Regions from separate parts of the Homo sapiens genome. Here region 1 is linked to region 2. Evidence: fine-mapped expression QTL. A gene starts in region 2. The other region holds a variant in brackets. All regions are shown on one strand. Distances are from middle to middle. Region 1 has its middle 8.9 kb from the start of H1-4. Region 2 holds the start of H2AC8 (H2A clustered histone 8).

Region 1 (5,382 bases), 69 kb after region 2:
CCCACCACCATGCCCGGCTAATTTTTTGTATTTTTAGTAGAGACGGGGTTTCACCGTGTTAGCCAGGATGGTCTCGATATCCTGACCTCGTGATCCGCCCGCCTCGGCCTCCCAAAGTGCTGGGATTACAGGCTTGAGCCACCGCGCCCGGCCGGCAAAGAATATAGTGATCTTGTTTCACATAAAATCCATCAATGGATGCTAAAATTAGTGGGCAAATTTTAAGACGCATGATTTGTTTCTCCAAGTTACCTTATCAACTACAAAGGAAAAGATAGTAAGTTTACATTGAAGAATCCTAGCAATCACCACCTTAACTAAGTAAAGTAAACATCACAAAGCAACAAGGCATATGTGTTTCATAAACTCATTGCATTGAGAAGGACATTTTATCATTTTGGTAGTATTTCCTGTCAAAAACCCAGAAACTCACTCCAGTGGAAAAAAAAGGACAATCATCAAGGGATATTCTTCAAAATAACTCATCAGCACTCTTCAGAAGTGTGAACATCATAAATATAAGAACAGACAGCAGAACTAATACAGACTTAAAGAGTCTAAGAAACAAGCAGTGACTAAATTCAGTGGGGGATCCAGAATAGGATTCTGACACAGAAAAAGAACATTAGGGGGAAGATGTGTGATATTTGAATGGGTCAGAAGTTTAGTTAATATTTTACCAATGTCTACTTCCTATTTCTGATCATTGTATATGGTTATGTAAAACATTAACATTACAGGAAAACAGTTGCTGAAAATAAGAAACATTGTATACTCTATTTGCAACTTTTTTTCACAATTTTTTGCAAAAATAATTCTCTTAGGATTTTGCCATGTTAGAATACTTTCCGACGGGCGTGGTGGCTCACGCCTGTAATCCCAGCACTTTGGGAGGCCGAGGCGGGCGGATCACGAGGACAGGAGATCAAGACCATCCTGGCTAACACGGTGAAACCCCGTCTCTACTAAAAATACAAAAAATTAGCCGGGCGTGGTGGCGGGCACCTGTAGTCCCAGCTACTCGGGAGGCTGAGGCAGGAGAATGGCGTGAACCCAGGAGTCGGAGCTTGCAGTGAGCGGAGATCACGCCACTGCACTGCAGCCTGGGTGACAGAGCAAGACTCCGTCTCAAAAAAAAAAAAAAAAAAAAAAGAATACTTTTCATAGGTGGTAAAAAGAAACAATGCAAAACACCAAACTGTGATATAGAGAGTCTCCATAGTGGTGGAAATACAAATTATTTTTATTATTGTATCTAAACCTTTATGTGTTTTCAAAATTTCTACTGTCAGCATGGATTTCTTTTTTAACAAACAACATCTTTCTAGAGCTGCGCACGGTGGCTCACGCCTGTAATCCCAGCACTTTGGGAGGCTGAGGTGGGCGGATCACTTGAGGTCAGGAGTTCAAGATCAGCCTGGCCAACATGGTGAAACTCTGTCTCTACTAATAATACAAAAAAATTAGCTGGGCATGGTGGTGGGGATTACAGCTACTCAGGAGACTGAGGTGGGAGAATCTCTTGAACCTGGGAGGTGGAGGCTGCAGTGAGCCAAGATCCTGCCACTGCACTCCAGCCTGGGTGGCAATGTGAGACTCTGTCTCAAAGAAAGAAACAAAAAACAAAAACAAACAATGTGTTTTTCTTAAAAATATGATAAAGTTTATTTTTTAAAAAATGTCTGCTTAGTGTCCTGGACATCCAGATACTATTCCCTTTGTACTCTCCTTCTCTCCATTATCTGAACTTTTATTAAAATCATTTTCTAGTTTTTTTTCTTTATAGGTATATGTACATATGTATCCATGAACAGTATGATTCAGTTTGTCCTGTTTCTGAAATTCATATATGTGAAATCATAGTGTATTATTGTGTGCCTTGCTCTTTTTTTCCTTCACTAGGATCCATTCCTCTTTATTATATTGATGCAGAAAGCTCAATTTTGTTGATTTGCATTGCTGTTCTATATTATAAATTTGGCTCCATGTATTTACTTATCTAGTCTACTCCTCATGGACATTCTCATGGTTGTATAACCTGGCCTATTTAATTTTGTTGACTCTTCAGGCTTGTGTCTCTAAACTATCTCATAAGAAATTTGATGATTCTGAGGCCACTGTGGTCTGTGAAAGCCAAGATGCACGTGGAGACCATGTTTGGGCATTCCTCTCCTCCCTTCCTCACCTTTCCCCTCTTCTCCCTTCCCCTCTCTAATTTCAGTAAAGCTGATCACAACCAACTAAATTGTCTTCATGAATAGCAATCAGAATACTGAAGAAATACTATGTTATAGGCGGCAGGGTGAAAAACATTGGTTTTGGAGATATTGGCAACCTTTCCATTCACTTTAACATTGAACCTATAATCATTTTTTCAAAGAATCTCTTCAGCATCTATTTATTCAAAGTTCTGGCCTCTGTCTTTGGAAGAGGTGGTTTAATGAACACATTGCATTTGGCCTTCTTGTGTATCTTCAGTTTTTCAGTTTCTCTCTTTATCTATGATACTTCCTGTTATTGTTTCCTCAATATCTCTTTACTTTTTCCTTTCCATCCCCCTTATATTAAATGAATTTGCTGGTTTGTAAATGTAAGGATTATCTGTTTACACATGATCACTAATTTATATGGAGTGGCAGCTTGGCATAGTGTTTAAACAGATTGACTCTGGTATAGACTCTATTGCTACATAACAAGTTGTCCCAAAATTTAGTGGCTTAAAATAATAGGAAAAATTCATTATGTCACATGGTTTCCATGATTCAGGAATTTGAGGGTGAGTGAACTGTAGTTTCAACACGGGATCTGTCATGAGATTGGAGGCAAGCTATTTGCTGGGACTTTAGTCATCTGCAGACTTAAGCTGAAGAATGGGACTGGAAAATTCCCAGATGGCTTACCTGGCTAGAAAG[C/T]TGATGTTGGCTATTAGCAGAAGACTTCCGTTCCTTGGCACATGACATCTTTTGTAGGGCTACACAAGGGTTCAATATATGGCAGCTGGCTTCCTCCAGAGTGATTCAAGAGACAGCAAAACAGAAGTCATGATATCATTTATGACTTAACCTCTTGGGAGTCACAATATTTATTAGTTTCATAGGTCAGAGCTATCCAATTTGGGAGTGAGATACACAAGATATACAAGTCTGTGAATACTAGAAGGTGAGAATTTACTGAGCCATCTTGGAGTCTGGGTATCAGAGTTATGGAGACAGACCACTCCATTTCAATCTCAATCCTGTATTGTTTACTAGGTGACTTTAAGAAACTTCCTAAACTCTATTTCTCAATTTTCTCATGCCTAAAATTTAGATAAGAATATGTAGTAAATTGTACTATTGCTCCCATGATTTTACTGCCCTTTTTGGGAGTATTATATATCCTTGCCCATTGATATGGGTTTACTATATTCCTCTCCATGTAAGGAACACTCTTTCCTACTACACATAAGTCTTTGTAAGTGAGTTGCTTTGGTCAATAAAATATGAGTAGAAGTACCATGTGTCTACTTTCCTGCAGAATCTTTAAGAGCATTGAGATCCCTTTATGTCAGTTTCTCTCAGCCTGGGTCTGTCTATGAAGAAAATATGGAGCAGAGCCATTGCTGATCCATACAGAAATAGAATTTGGGCCTGAAATAACCCTTCTTGTTATTATCCACCAAGATGTGGGGAGTTTTTATATAGCTTGGCAAAAACTTAACGGTTACAACTATTACCTACTTTAGTAGGATTGTTGGTAGGAGTAGACAATATTTTTGAAGTGCTTATAACAATGTCTTGCACATAGTAAGAATATCTATTACTATGATTATTCAAACCTAAATTCACATGAGATAGGTTTATAAGCCATACCATTACTTTATCAATTTATAATGAAAGATACACTTCATATTAAAAATTTGTATCAGAAGGCCGGGCGCGGTGGCTCACGCCTGTAATCCCAGCACTTTGGGAGGCCGAGGCGGGCGGATCACAAGGTCAGGAGATCGAGACCATCCTGGCTAACACGGTGAAACCCCGTCTCTACTAAAAATACAAAAAATTAGCTGGGCGCGGTGGTGGGCGCCTGTAGTCCCAGCTACTCAGGAGGCTGAGGCAGGAGAATGGCGTGAACCTGGGAGGCGGAGCTTGTAGTGAGCCGAGATCGCGCCACTGCACTGCAGCCCGGGCGACAGAGCGAGACTCCGTCTCAAAAATAATAAATAAATAAATAAATAAATAAATAAATAAATAAATAAATAAATAAAAATAAAAATTTTAAAAAATTTGTATCAGAGCCGGGCGCGGTGGCTGACGCCTATAATCCTAGCACTTTGGGAGGCTGAGGCGGGCGGATCACGAGGTCAGGAGATCGAGACCATCCTGGCTAACCAGGTGAAACACCGTCTCTACTAAAAATACAAAAAATTAGCCGGGCGTGGTGGCGGGAGCCTGTAGTCCCAGCTACTCAGGAGGCTGAGGCAGGAGAATGGCGTGAACCCAGGAGGCAGAGTTTCCGGTGAGCTGAGATCGCGCCACTGCACTCCAGCCTGGGCGACAGAGCAAGACTCCGTCTCAAAAAAAAAAATATATGTATTAGAGATGTGTTTATTGCATTACATTCTGGTCTGGAGGCAAAGATACAAATTAGAAGATAATTTCTGTGCATAGAGTTGTAATAAAAGACATTTTCATCAAGCAGTGGTCTCCTGACCAATCGGCTCCTCTATCCCAGGGACACTTGTGTACTGCGTTCTGCTCTGTGGAAAAGATACAGTGAACAATTCATCATTCTATTTTCTAGGTGATCACCAGCCTTTTTTTTTTTTTTTTTTTTAATCATAGTTGCTGTTACATGAAGTCTCTGAATTTCTAGTGTGGAGACTAAAGTAACTCAATCTTAGATGCTAATCTGCTGTATTGACTTCTAAATAATCCCAGTTCTGGGAATGCCTCTAAGATTTCTACTTCCCTGTACTTACCATAAATCCTGCCCTTAAGTCAAAACAATCTTGATATTATTGTAAACACATACTTACTATAAATCCTGCCCTTAGGCAAATTCCCTGTGATCTATAAGCCCTGGGGTTTGGGGTGGGGTAATGGCAGGTAGGCAAATTCACCAAGTTGTCTACATGCCATGGAAGACATGGCTTCTGTTTATAAGTCCCTATTAAAATTTTCTTTCTTGATTTTTCATCATCCTTCTTATGCCTCTCAGTTTCCTTGGCCTTTGGAGGCACGTTTGCTTAGAACTACTAATGGAGGAACATGTTTTCAGTATAATATACCTGTTTAATTTTTGTCAGTTATGGCCAGGCACGGTGGCTTATGCCTGTAATCCCAGAACTTTGGGAGACCGAGGTGGGCAGATCATCTAAGGTAAGGAGTTTGAGACCAGCCT
Region 2 (5,382 bases):
CTTGCTGGCTGCCTTGGTGGCCAGCTGCTTAGGAGGCTGTCTGCCACCAGTGGACTTCCGTGTGGTTGGCTTGGTGCAGGCCATGACCTTTCATATCAGATTTACAGATCACTTCTCTTTATAGGGCCTGGTGTGTGATCCAATTAGATTTGAGATTTTTTACAGAGAAATGTGACTGGATTTCTACTAAAGTTGAATAATTAATTGTGCTTTACAGTGTAGTCCATTTATAAATTTAGGTCATAAAACTAAGTTTTTGCTGCTGGGTTTTTTTTGTTTTTTTTTTTTTTTCCTTTCCTAAACAGGATCTTGCTTTGCCCCCCATAGCTCGCTGCAGCTTCGAACTCCTGGGCTCAATCAATCCTTCCCCGCGTAATTCTCCCAAGTATCTAAGATCTCAGACTGAGCCACCAGGCCAGGCTTTTTCTTTTCTTTTCTTTTTTTTTTTTGAGACGACGGAGTCTCGCTCTATTGTCCAGGCTGGAGTGCAATGGCATGATCTTGGCTCACTGCAACCCCCGCCTCCCGGGTTCAAGCGATTCTCCTGCCTCAGCCTCCCGAGTAGCTGGGATTTCAGGAGCCCACCGCCATGCCTGGCTAATTTTTTTGTATGTTTAGTAGAAACAGGGTTTTGCCACGTTGGCCAGGCTGGCCTCGAACTCCTGACCTCAAGTGATCCGCCCATCTCGGCCTCCCAAAGTGCTGGGATTATAGGCATGAGCCACCGGGCAGGGCAGGCTTTTTACTTTTTGTGGAGGTGAGGGGGCTGTCTCGCTTTATTGCCCAGGCTGGTCTTGATCTCCTGGGCTCAAGCGATTCTTCTGCCTTAGTCTTTCAAATTGCTGGGATTACAGGTCTGACCTAGGGCGTCAGGCCGTTACTGCTTAGTTTCGTTTAGTGTTTATTTTAGAATACTGTGTTAATTGCTCCTTTTGAAAAGAGAAATCCAACAAACACAATTCTCACTAGAGGAATGTAGTCTTTTTTTTTTTTTTTTTTTTTGAGACGTAGTCTTGCTCTGTTACCCAGGCTGGAGTGCAATAGCGTGATCTCGGCTCACTGCAGCCTCTGCCTCCCGGAGTCAAGCGATTCTCCTGCCTCAGCCTCCCAAGTTGCTGGGACTACAGATGCACACCACCACGCCCGGCTACTTTTTGTATTTGTTTAGTAGAGACGGGCTTTCATTATGTTGGGCAGGCTGATTTCGAACTCCTGACCCTATGATCCGCCCTCCTTGGCCTCCCAAAGTGTTGGGATTACAGGCATGAGCCACTGAGCCCAGCCGGAATGCAGTCATCTTTAAAACTTAAAAAGCCCGCCCTGAAATGCTAATGGGCAGCTATCCTTCTTTGTTCTCTCGTTTCTGTATTAATATTTCACCCTTTTCTGACAAGTGCACATGAATAAACAGCCTGTGTATTAATGATAAATTTGTATACACAGCATGGACCTATACACAAAATAACGCAGTGAAACCTTGGTGTCACAACCTCGGTTTCTATTCTTGTATACCTTTATAAACGCATTTTTACTGCAAAGAAACACCAGTAAGATAAATTAGTGCATGAAATGTGAGCAAGGATTTCAATAAAGAACTGACCAGTAACGTCAGAAGCGTTCGTTAAAAATTAGGACAGTGAACATTGAGATTTCAGGCATCGTATGTGTATTCCAGCACTTTACAGAAAAGGTGGGTGGCTCTGAAAAGAGCCTTTGGTTTCTGGGACTCGGGATCACTGACGGATTTGACTAGTAATCATTTCACTTGCCCTTGGCCTTATGGTGGCTCTCCGTCTTCTTAGGCAGCAATACGGCCTGGATGTTGGGCAGGACACCGCCCTGCGCGATGGTCACGCGACCTAGAAGCTTATTTAGCTCCTCGTCGTTGCGGATGGCTAGCTGCAGGTGGCGCGGGATGATGCGGGTCTTCTTATTGTCGCGAGCCGCGTTGCCAGCTAGCTCTAAGATCTCGGCCGTCAGATATTCCAGCACCGCTGCCAGGTACACTGGAGCGCCGGCCCCGACTCGTTCGGAGTAGTTGCCTTTGCGGAGGAGGCGGTGCACACGGCCAACTGGAAACTGAAGACCGGCCCTGGAAGAACGCGTTTTAGCTTTTGCCCGAGCTTTGCCGCCTTGCTTTCCACGTCCAGACATAGTGGCTTCCTAACAGCAGAAGAACTAACAATCCACTGAATAAAGAAAAAGAATGGGCTCGATGGAGGAATAAGAAGCTAGTTATAGTCATCGGTAGAATTGTGAAAGGCGCAATTTGATTGGTTAAAATTGTTCTTTGACGAGCCAACCAATTAGAAAGGAAATAAGGTGAAGGCTATTTTACATGTATGCGTCACTAACACATTGCCCAATCAGAGCTGGATATTTTGAATTCTTTATTTGCATGAAAGGCCTATAAAAGGAGAGACTCTAGACACGAGCTTTTATTTAAGTGCGTTCATTCTCACTGCTGTTATTGTTTTCTGACAGCATGCCTGAACCAGCTAAGTCAGCTCCTGCTCCGAAGAAGGGTTCCAAGAAGGCTGTGACCAAGGCGCAGAAGAAGGATGGCAAGAAGCGCAAGCGCAGTCGTAAGGAGAGCTACTCCGTGTATGTGTACAAGGTGCTAAAACAGGTTCACCCCGATACTGGCATCTCATCCAAGGCCATGGGCATCATGAATTCCTTCGTTAACGACATCTTCGAACGCATCGCAGGCGAGGCTTCCCGTCTGGCCCACTACAACAAGCGCTCGACCATTACCTCCAGGGAGATCCAGACCGCCGTGCGTCTGCTGCTTCCCGGAGAGCTGGCCAAGCACGCAGTGTCCGAAGGTACCAAGGCTGTCACCAAGTATACAAGCTCCAAGTAAATGTGTGCTTAGGTGCTTTAAAACTCAAAGGCTCTTTTCAGAGCCACTCAAGTCTCACATAAAGAGCTTTAATATTGAATTTCACCGTTTTCTAGGGAATAATTTTTCCGATTTTGTAATCCCAGCACTTTGGGAGGCCGAGGCGTGCGGATCGAGACCAGTTTGGCTAACGTGGTTAAATCTCGTTTCTACTAAAAATACAAATATTAGCCGGGCGTGGGGCAGTCGCGTGTCATCCCAGAGACTCGGGAGGCTGCCGCAGGAGAATCACTTAAACCCAGCAAGCAAAGGTTGCAGTGAAAAGACATGGCGCTTTTGCATTCTAGCCTGGGCGACAAAGGCGAGGCTTCGTCTCAAAAAAAATTGATCAGGAGATACTCCTGTTCTGTGTTGGCAAGATCCTGTAATCCTAGCACTTTGGGAGGTCGATGCATGAGGCTTTCTTCAGCTCAGGAGTTAACAGATTTGCCTGGGCAACATAGAACTCGTCTCTGCAAAAAAATGAAGCTAACCAGGTGTGACGGCTTGCGTCTGTACTATCATTTACTCGGTAGGCTGAGGTGGTAGGATAGCTTAAACTCTCGGGCTAGAGACTGCAGGAACATGTGAATACGCTAGTGCAATTCCAGCCTGGGCAACACTGGAAAGGGTAGGAAGAGTAGTCTTTGGGTCCCTAAAGATCACCTGATAACAAGTTTGACTTTTCTGAGCACTCTTGTGGAGTTTGTTGTGGAGGGAATACCATGGGCATTGGCAATGTAAAGTTGATCTAAAAAATCTCGTTTTCCGCCGTGCGCGGTGGCTCACGCCTCTAATCCCATCACTTTGGGAGGCCGAGACGGGCGGATCACGAGGTCAGGAGGTCGAGACCATCCTGGCTAACACTGTGAAACCCTGTCTCTACTAAAAAAATACAAACAAAATTAGCCGGGCGTGGTGGCACTCACCTGTAGTTTCAGCTACTCTGGAAGCTGAGGCTGGAGAGTCACTTGAACCCGGGAGGCGGAGGTTGCAGTGATCAGAGATCGCGCCACTGCACTCCATCCTGGGCGAAAGAGCTAGATTCCATCTCATAAAAAAAAAAAAAAAAAAAAAAAAAAAAAAATTACAGTTTTGGCTGGCTGGGCGCAGTGGCTCTCGCCTGTAATCCCAGCATTTTGGGAGGCGAGGCTGGTGGATCACTTGAGGTCAGGAGTTCAAAAACAGCCTGACCCACATGGTGAAACCCCGTATCTACTAAAAATAACAAAATTAGCCGGGCGTGGTGGCGCATGCCTATGTTACCCCAGCTACTTCGGAGACTGAGGCAGGAGAAACGCTTGAAACCGGGAGGCGGGGGTTGCAGTGAGCCAAGATCCCGCCATTTCATTCCAGCCTGGACAACAAGAACGAAACTCCGTCTCAAACATAGAAACCATTAGTTTATACTCATTAATCAAATTTCTAAAATGGGACCAAAAAAAAAAAAAAGGTCACTACTCCATAGTACTCCATGAGCAACCTCAGGTTTCTGACAACATAGTACTCCAAAGTATGGCGCCTTGACATAGTAAATATTCTAAGACATTAGTAGAACAACATAGACAAGAATGTTCGTATGACCTTCCTCTGAAGCAGGTCTTAAGACCCTCCTGGGAGTCTTGCAGAGTATGCGAGGAATCTGAACAAATAAACCTTGCTAGATTTCTCCTTGTTTATTATCCTTAGCTCATATTATTTTTGTCTTGTTATATTTCTGCATGACTCTCTTCATCAAACCTAGTGCAAACACACTCAGGTTTAAGCCCTTCTTCAGGTCCTTATTTCCTTATGTCATGTAAAACTTCATATTAAATGTGAATGTTTTTCTCTTGGCCGGGCGCGGTGGCTCACGCCGGCTCACGCCTGTAATCCCAGCACTTTGGGAGGCCGAGGCGGGCGGATCACGAGGTCAGGAGATCGAGACCATCCTGGCTAACACGGTGAAACCCCGTCTCTACTGAAAATTGAAAAAAATTAGCCGGGTGTGGTGGCGGGCACCTGTAGTCCCAGCTACTCGGGAGACTGCGGCAGGAGAATGCCATGAAGCCGGGAGGTGGAGCTTGCCGTGAGCCAAGATCGGGCAACTGCACTCCAGCATGGGCGACAGAGCAAGACTCCGTCTCAAAAATAAATAAATAAATCAAAATAAAAATAAAGTGTATATTTTTCTGTTGTTAATCTGTATTTTGTTTCAGGGCCCCAGCCAATGAACATAAGATGGGTAAAAGGAAACGCTCTTTCCTCCCCTACAACATACAGTAGGGGTGGGTGTGCATCTGTGTTCTGTGTGTTTGTCTTTGTGGAGTACAAAAGCTAGCATAACATAGAAAAGGTGTGGAGAAAAGTATTCCCAGAATGAAAATGTTTGAGAAGTGTGTTCGCTAGGGCTGCCAAAACAAACTACCAAAGACTGTGTGGCTTAAAAAAATTAATTTTGTCACAATTCTGAAGGCTACAAGTTCAAGATCAAACCAGTGAGCATGATTGATTTTTTC

The links. PIP is the estimated chance that this variant, and not a neighbour inherited with it, causes the effect. A credible set is the group of variants that fine-mapping cannot tell apart.
Region 1: its variant is the best candidate, but not a certain one, in a credible set for the expression of H2AC8 in whole blood (TOPMed, PIP 0.50).

The regions. Positions count from the first base shown.
Region 1 is chr6:26,144,699-26,150,080 of GRCh38, reverse strand. No RefSeq gene overlaps it. Among named protein-coding and RNA genes, the nearest start is that of H1-4, 8.9 kb to the left of the region's middle. The variant C/T (reference allele first, on the strand shown) is at 2,913.
Region 2 is chr6:26,213,747-26,219,128 of GRCh38, reverse strand. It overlaps H2AC8 (H2A clustered histone 8), which reads right to left and starts at 2,208. Exons shown (of 1, transcript NM_021052.4): 1 at 1,692-2,208. The coding sequence starts at 2,154. The coding sequence ends at 1,762. It overlaps H2BC8 (H2B clustered histone 8), which reads left to right and starts at 2,441. Exons shown (of 1, transcript NM_003518.4): 1 at 2,441-2,929. The coding sequence starts at 2,486. The coding sequence ends at 2,866. It also overlaps the pseudogene H3C5P. RefSeq lists enhancers at 1,388-1,497, 1,413-2,064, 1,778-2,197, 2,065-2,716, 2,628-2,977 and 2 more.